2 separate regions of the Homo sapiens genome follow, and region 2 is linked to region 1. The links come from fine-mapping of genetic effects on gene expression. A gene starts in region 1. The other region holds a variant in brackets. All regions are shown on one strand. Distances are between the middles of the regions. Region 1 holds the start of RCSD1 (RCSD domain containing 1). Region 2 has its middle 17 kb from the start of CREG1.

What was found. PIP is the estimated chance that this variant, and not a neighbour inherited with it, causes the effect. A credible set is the group of variants that fine-mapping cannot tell apart.
Region 2: its variant is the best candidate, but not a certain one, in a credible set for the expression of RCSD1 in whole blood (INTERVAL, PIP 0.51).

Annotation. Positions count from the first base shown.
Region 1 is chr1:167,627,807-167,632,198 of GRCh38, forward strand. RCSD1 (RCSD domain containing 1) reads left to right here and starts at 2,426. Exons shown (of 7, transcript NM_052862.4): 1 at 2,426-2,623. The coding sequence starts at 2,618. RefSeq lists enhancers at 255-314, 395-564, 575-624, 3,143-3,212 and silencers at 2,283-2,362, 2,383-2,602.
Region 2 is chr1:167,568,157-167,572,548 of GRCh38, forward strand. No RefSeq gene overlaps it. Among named protein-coding and RNA genes, the nearest start is that of CREG1, 17 kb to the left of the region's middle. The variant C/T (reference allele first, on the strand shown) is at 2,013.

The sequences.
Region 1 (4,392 bases):
CTCCTCGGAAAGTCACTTTCCCTTCCCCTTGGGCTGTTGTTTCCTCCCAGCCCCCAGAGCAGCCAGTTACAATCCCAGATAACCCAGCAAACCTGGGTGTTTATCAGCAGAGTTACTGCTATTCTGGCTCCTGGAGATCTTCTGTAGGGACAGAAGAAGAAGATAAGGGGAGTACACACACCACACCTACTCATGGCTGCCTAAACACAGCTCGGGGCTACCTCTTGGTCCCTCCCTCCCCGTTTTCCACCCCCTCCCTCAGGAGAAGTCCCAGTCTGGGGCCCAAATAGCTCTGGAGCAGCATTAAACTCTGCACTGGGGACCCAGGAGCATGGTGGAGGCCAAGCTTGTTTGCTTTGTGGTCATCTGTTCTCAGCCAAGAGAGGCCTAAGCAGGGCGTGGGGAGCAGCTGCAAGTCACCTTGGGTGACTGATGTTATCTAGGCCTAACGGTTTCCTCTGGGTAAGCACTTCCGCCCTCCTGTTTGTGAAGCCAGAAACCTGTGCTGGGGCAGCCCCATTCTGAGCACAAAGGAGGACTAGGTAGAGGGAGAAAGGAAAAGGCCCTGTGGAGCAGAGTTAGAAGACCTGATAGTAGACTATGCAGTCATCACTACGTCCTGCACCTTTAAAAAGAAAGGAAAGAAGCACGAGCAAAAGTGTGCCTTGCAGGTTACCAGTAAATACCCTTCCTTACTGCCGACTCTGCTCTCGAGTCTTCACCTGAGCAGCCATGTGGCTGGACTGGGAGGGGCCTCACTATTAATTCCTGGGAGTGAGGGCTCTTTTCACTGGGTCCCCGAGTGCCTGTCTCTAAATAAAAGAAATATCAGGCTCTTATTCATCTGAAGCTTGTACATGGGGCTAAGCATGATAAAAACAGCCACTTTTTGCAGAGTGCCTACTACATTGTATAGGTGAGGAAAATGAGAATCAGAGCAGTTAAGTGACTTGTCTAAAAAATACAACTAGAAAGTAGCAGAGCTGGAATTCAGCCCTCAATCTGTCTGTTCCTAAAACCAGGCGTCTTCCTCTATGCTTAGCTAAGCTAAAGAACTAGAAGCCACTCTGGCATTAGGGCTGCCAGTGTTTTAGAAAGTTGGGCCTTAGAAAGTTCTAGGACAGGAAGGAGGCCATATTTCTAAGACTGGTACCCAAAGCAGCAATCTAAGTGCCTGAAAGTGCAAAGATGGTGCCGGGATAACCAGAATCAGGGTAGTCTTTGTAGCAGGAGCAGACTCTCAGCCTTTTTTCTCTACTGTTTCTCCACATGTCTCTTCACAGTGCTCACCATCACCTGTCCCATTGCCCACCTCTGATGGGGCTCCCCTCCCCTGGTTGAGCTGGGGTTGGGCGGGTGAGAATGCTGTGGGATAACCCAGAGGCGTCATATACCCAGCCAATACCCTGGCACTCACAGGTCTCTCAAGGCATTTTCCTGTTTCTCTCTGCCGAAGGGTCTGAAGGGGGCCGGGATCCGGGTAGCAGGGAGTGACCCTGGTGCAGATTCCAGTCCCCGAATCCCTCCCATGCGGTCTCTGCTGCCCAGCCGGGATGGCCCTAAAGGAAGGTTGCTATGCTGGGCCCTATGGGAATCAGATGTTGAGCATCTTGCCCTTTGCTATATTTAACAGGAATGGAGACGAGGCCCTTTAGCAAGCAGCTTGTGGGAGCCAAAATTCCCACAAAACCGAATGCATCAGTCAAAGCAAGGTTTGAAGAAAAGATTTACCACTTCAGGGAGCTTGGAAAACTTTGCGTGGATTCCTGATTTTCCTCCTCCTCCTCCTCCTTCTACTCGTATACAGAAGATAGATGGATAGATGGATAGATAGTGGTTTCCTGGAAGGTGGAGAGGAAAAGAGGTGAGAAGGGAAAGGTGGTCCCGTCGGCGCCACGCTGAGCTCTGAAGCCTCGGTCAGAAGGGCTCCTCTTTTGGTAGAACACAAACGCCTTCCACCAGGGAGGGTCCTCGAACTCCACCCAAGAACTGCAGGGAAACCAGGTATGACAGTAATGCAATTTTAAAAAGAGGGAGAGGAAGAAGGAAAGCAGGAAGGATGGACACAAAAGAAGGAAATCGAAAAGAGAGGAAACAAAAAGAATTAAAGGACCACTCTAATTCTTGAAGGGACAGGAAAAAGAAAGAAGGCGCATTAAGGGAGGGAGACGTTGAGAAGGACTGAGACCGTGGCAAAGCCCAGGGTCCTGAGAAACTTCGCGAGACAGAGGGGCCCGGTGGCTGCCCATCCCCATGTTTGGGCACATGGAGTCGTGGCTCCCGCTCTTGAGTCCTGCCCTGGGAGGGACAGTATCTGTTTAGATTTGCGTCTAAATTTAAACCCTGATCGTCGGCCTCCCTCCCCGCTCCCCACCCTCCCCTCCCCTCCCCTTCCTCCCTCCCTCCCTCCTCCTCCTTCCTCGTTCTCTCGCGCAGGGCCCCCGCGGCCGGGGCAGTCCCGCAGCCGAGCGCAGCCGGGCGCGCGCCACCGCCCACTCGCCCTGTGCCCGCCGCAGCCCGAAACTGGCCACGGCCGGGAGCGGAGGGGACAGCGGGGATCGTGAGCTCCGGCCCGGGCGAGCGGGTGCGTCTGCCGCAGAGTCGGCACCTGAAGGACATGGAGGTAAAGGACCCCGGAGGGAGACGCGGGGCTGAGCGGTGAGCGGTGTATCGGGCGCCCCTTCCCCGGGCGGCTGCCCCTGCCCTGAGCATGGAGCACGCGGCTCATCGCTGCTGCCAACTAGAAGGGCAAATGCCTGCTGTTCCGACGCCTCCTTGACCAACTCCGAAGGATCGTCCCTGGTCCCACCTAGGACACCCGGGTTGGGAGGCTGGGGTTGGTAAGGAAAGATCTCAGAGGGAGAGAAAAGGGCTTTCCTAGAGGCCCGGGTATTTTGGCTAGGAACTTAAATGCTAAAAAAAAAAAAAAAAAAAAAAAAAAAAAAAAGTTAGGTGCAGCCAAGGTTTGTAAATGGGTAAACGTGTCAGCAAAAACTGCAAGAAGGCAGAAGCCCTTCAATCTGAAGAGATGGGTATTGAAAGAGAAACAGAACTGGCAACACGAGGCCAGCACGTCTTCGTGGGTCTGTGGGCTTCCCTTTTCGCTTTCGGAGTGGCATTTTAGAGAGTCCAGTTGTCTTCTTGCTTCTGAAGTCCTTCCTGTGTCTGTCGCATCTTCTTCCATAACTTTCTGAAAGCTCCCCTTACTGGTCAGTCGAATGACATTATTTCTGATAAAACTTAAGACTCCCTTGGACACCCTTGCCTCTGAAGCTGTGTGTATGGAGGTATGCTGGCCACATCTGCAGGCTTTGCCAGAGGGAGGCCCCGCACTTCTCTGCCTGCTGAGAGGAGGTCCGGGGACTTTCCTTGTTCTGTTCCAACCTCAGCAGAGGAGTGGTTGGGTGTATTCCCCACATCCCTCTCTTCTGCACATCTTGAGGCTTCCCTGTGTTTCCTCCTTGAAAATGAGACCTGATATGTAGCCCTAAGTCAATCTTAGTAGGACCTGGGGCTTTTGAGAAGATGCAAATGTTATATAGTTTTAAAGGTGATTCCCACTCATATTCAAAAGGAAACATGTGTTGCTCACTAGACTGTGGTCAGTGCAATCAGGATTCACAGTTAACTCCGCTATCTCTTCCCCGCTCCAGGCTCTGTGCCTGGGCCCTGGTGGTCTTTTTATTTTTTTCTTTTGAGACAGGGTCTCATTCTGTTACCCAGGCTGGAGTGCAGTGGCACAATCTCAGCTCACTGCAACCTCTGCCTCCCAGGCTCAAAGGATCCTCCCACCTCAGCCTCCCAAGTGGCTGGGACTACCAGTGTGTACCACCATGCCTGGCTAGTTTTAAAATTTTTTGTAGAGACAAGTTCTCACTATATTACCCATGCTGGTCTTGAACTCCTGGGCTCAAGTGATCCTCTAAGCCTTGGCCTCCCAAAGTGCTGGATTTGCAGGCATGAGCCACACCACTCCTGGCCCTGGTTGTGTTTTCTAAGCTAGACTCTGTGCTTGCCGGCAAAGCTTCATGACTTCTCTAAAGGGGCAATAAGTTTGTCCTTTAGAGAAGTCAGGGAGCTATATTCAGGCATCCAGCCCAGCCAGTTGTCTTCAAGGAACAGGGAATCACCTTCAAGGAGACTTTATAGACTGCAAGAACCACTGGAGTCTAATATGGACCCTCCACAGAAACATTTGCAAGGCCAGGAAGCTCTGGCAGATTAGGGCTGGCGGTGAGGCACGCACACAGCGAAGCTCAGCAGGTGGTGTGCACACATCCACCCAAAGATCACACAAACACAAAACAACAGGGTTCTCTCTGAGCTGGCCACTGCTTCAGGGCAGAGGAGGGAAATGGCCCAGGCAACACCCAGCTTCTTGGGTTGGGTGAA
Region 2 (4,392 bases), 60 kb before region 1:
GTCACTTTTTCCTTTAACATTTAAATGGAAATATTTCATATGCTGGGCTTGGAAACTCAGCATTTCCCCACAGAATAACTGAGGATTCCCAGGGGTATATGCTGTTCACAATAGTTTTCTGCAAGATTTTTTATCTTGCTGGAAGCTTTCTCTGCTTCTTGTCCTGAATTAACCCAACAAACACTACTTTGCCTTAATTTCCCTGCAACAAACACTGCTCACCCAAAGCATAGCAGGTTTTTGTTGAAGATTTAGGGGAGGCGTTACATTGCCATGTACCACGGCAGATTATTTAAAATTGAATGTTTCAGTCTCTATTCTAGAAAGCTTCCCAGGCTGCCTTAAGAAACTTGAAATTCTTTTCCCTTTAATATGTACAATAATTTTGCTCAATGTCTTCTCTTAGCACAGCCAACGAGGCATGGCAGTATTTTTCCACAATAAAATGGCTTTCTGAGCATTTTGTTAAATGAAATATATTTCTTCTTTTAAATAAATTCTAGGGCCCATTTTAAAACTCCCTCTTTCACATTTACAAAATTTCAAAGGGAAACTTTAAGTAGTTACTCAGTATATGCTGATCAAATAAATTTCAAGCATACTGCTTAAATTCATCTTATTCCTCCATAGAAAGGGAGGAAAGCCTGGGGACAGTGGCTCACGCCTGTAATCCCAGCACTTTGGGAGGCCAAGGTAGGTGGGTCACTTGAGCCCGGGAGTTTGAGACCAGCCTGGGCAACAAGGAGAAACCCCATCTCTACAACAAATACAAAAAAAAAAAAAATTAGCTGGACATGGTGGCACACACCTGTAGTCCCAGTTACTAGGGAGACTGAGGTGGGAGGATCACTTGAGCCCAGAAGATCAAGGCTGCAGGGAGCTGTGAGCATGCCACTGCTCTCCAGCCTGGGTGACAGTATGAGACTGTTTCAAAAAAAAAAAAAAAAGGGTGTGTGTGTGTGTGTGTGTGTGTGTGTGTGTGTGTGTATAACATTTGTGTTTGTGTGTGTGGGAGGAACATCTGAGTGGGCATTTTGTGCCAAAGGTAATCATGTGTGCTATCTGTGGTAGGCATTATACTGTCCACCCAATATTTCTGGCTCTCTGCCTTCTGGGCACAAGGGGGGCCAACTTAGGGTTAGTGGGGCCATATGACTAGTTCTGGCCACTGAGATCTAAATGGAAATGACATGTATCACTTCCATTCAGACCCTCCAGAAGGCTCTTTCCCTTACCCTAGGTTGCTGTGTTCCAGATTGTGGGTGCTCTGTCCACTTGTATCTTGGATCAGTGTAGAGTAGATCCCTCTCCCACCAAAGCTGGTCTGCAGGGACCACAGTAAACACGTATTATGAGTGGGAAATAAACAATAAACCTGTTATTTGAAGTCACTGAGATTTAAGGACTATTCGTTACCATAGTATAGCCTAGCCTACTTTGATATACTATCTAATTGTAATTCTTGCAATCACCCTCTGAAACAGGTATTATTATCTCCATGTTATTGATGTGATTTTCTCAGGCCACAGAGCAAATACATGGTGGAGACTATTTTCAAATCCACCTCCATCTGACCCAGTGCCTGTGCTCACTACGCTGAATTTATACTTACATTTATGAACTTTACTTTTTGATGAATATTCTTACAAACAGGTTCATAGCTTTTTTGAATTTCCAATTTTGCTGAATTGGAACTTCCAGTTTTGAAATTCCAATCCAATTCCAGTGATCCCAATAAAACAGCACCATAGAATTTTTACTCAGTGTAATTTCATGTGATCCCCACAACACTCCTGTTATGTCAGGCACATTCTTTTTTATTTGTTTGTTTTGGTTTTAATTGTTTATTTTACTTTAAGTTCCAGGATACATGTACAAAACATGCAGGTTTGTTACATAGGTATACATGTGCCATGATGGTTTGCTGCACCCATCAACCCGTTATCTAGGTTTTAAGCCCTGCGTGCATTATGTATTCGTCCTAATGCCCTCCCTCACCTTGCCCCCCATCC[C/T]CCCACAGGACCCAGTGTGTGATGTTCCCCTCTCTATGTCCATATGTTCTCACTGTTCAACTCCCACTTTGAGTGATAACATGCGGTGTTTGGTTTTCTGTTCCTGTGTTAGTTTGCTGAGAATGATGGCTTCATCTATGTCCCTGCAAAGGACATGATCTCATTCTTTTTTATAGCTGCATAGTATTCCATGATGTATATGTGCCACATTTTCTTTATTGAGTCCCTCATTGATGGGCATTTGGCTTGGTTCCAAGTCTTTGCTGTTGTAAAAAGTGCTGCAATAAACATACGTGTGCATGTGTCTTTATAGTAGAATGATTTATAATTCTTTGGGTATATACCCAGTAATGGGAATGCTGGGTCAAATGGTATTTCTGGTTCTAGATCCTTGTAGCTTTTTTTTTTTATTTTGTATTTTACTTTAAGTTCTGGGATACATGTGCTGAACGTGCAGGTTTGTTACATAGGTGTACATGTGCCACGGTGGTTTGCTGCACCTATCACTCGTCATCTAGGTTTTAAGCTCTGCATGCATTAGGTATTTGTCCTAATGCTCTCCCTCCCCTTGCCTCCCATCCCCCGACAGGCCCCAGTGTGTGTTGTTCCCCTCCCTGTGTCCATGTGTTCCCATTGTTTAGCTCTCACTTATGAGGAAGAACATGCAGTGTTTGGTTTTCTGTTCCTGTGTTAGTTTGCTGAGGATGATGGTTTCCAGCTTCATCGATGTCCCGGCAAAGAACATGAACTCATTCTTTTTTATGGCTGCATAGTATTCCATGGTGTATATGTGCCACATTTTCTTTATACAGTCTATCATTGATGGGCATTTGGGTTGGTTCCAAGTCTTTGCTATCGTAAAAAGTGCTGCAATAAACATACGTTTGCACGTGTCTTTACAACAGAATGATTTATAGTCCTTTGGGTATATACCCCAGTCATGGGATTGCTGGGTCAAATGGTATTTCTGGTTCTATATCCTTGAGGAATCACCATGCTGTCTTCCACAATGGTTGAACTAATTTACACTCCCACCAACAGTGTAAAAGTGTTCCTATTTCTCTGCACCCTCTGATTGCTGCCTGCTACTTCCTCTGGAATCTTTGTCCCAGAGGGCCACTGGCCTGATGCCTGCTGGAGCTCTCCTGTATAAGGTGTCTGTCAACCCCTGTTGGGATGTCTCTCCCAGTCAGGAGTCACGGGGATCAGGGACCCTCTTGAGGTGGCAGCCTGCCTCTTAGCAGAGCTCAAGCTCTACTGCGCTGGTAGAACCCTCTTTGTCAGGATCCGCTGCTCTTTTCAGAGCTGGCAGGCAGAAACATTTAAATCTGCTGAAGCTACGCCCACAGCCGCCCCTTCCTCCAGATGCTCTGTCCCAGTGAGATGGGAGTTTTATCTATAAGCCCCTGACTAGGGCTGCTGCCTTTTTTTCAGAGATGCCCTGCCCAGGCAAGAGGAATCTAGGGAGGCAGTCTGGCCACAGCCAATTTGCCGCTCTGTGTTGAGTTCTGCCCGTTCCAAACCTCCAGGCTTTTTTAGCACGGTCAGGGGAAAACCGCCTACTCAAGCCTCAGTAATGGCTGATGCCTTCCCCCCACCAAGCTCAATCATCCCAGATTGGCTTCAGACTGCTGTGCTGACAGCGAGAATTTCAAGCCAGTAGTTCTTAGCTTGCTGGACTGCGTGGGAGTGGGAACTGCTGAGCGAGACCACTTGGATCCCCGGTTTCAGCCCCTTTTCCAGGGGAGTGAATGGTTCTGTCTCACTGGGGTTCCAGGCGCCACTGGGGTATGAAAAGAAAAACTCCTGCAGCTAGCTCAGTGTCTGCCCAAACAGCCACCCAGTTTTGTCCTTGAAACCCAGGGCCCTGGTGGTGTAGGCACCTGAGGGAATCTCCTGGTCTGTGGGTTGCAAAAACTGTGGGAGAAGCATAGTATCTGGGCCAGATAGCACAGTCCCTTATGGCTTCCCTTGGCTGGGAAGAAGAGGCTCTCCCACTCCTTGCACTTCTTGGGTGAGGTGACACCCCACCCTGCTTCTGCTCACCCTCCGTGGGCTGCACCCACTGCCTAACCAGTCCCAGTGAGATGAACAGGGTACCTCAGTTGGAAATGCAGAAATCACCCGCCTTCTGTGCTGGTCTTGCTGGGAGCTGCAGACCGGAGCTGTTCCATTCGGCCATCTTGCCAGCAGCCTCTGGCAGATTCCTAGTAGCCTCATTTTACAGACAATCCAAATAAAGTCCAGAGCCATTAACAGACATACCCTAAGTGAGATTCATAATGTGTGACAGAGCTAGGTCTTAAACCTAAGTTTTCTGACTTCAAGTTCAGGGCACTTTCTATGTCCAGGGTGTCTTTCAAATAAACTATATTTTCTT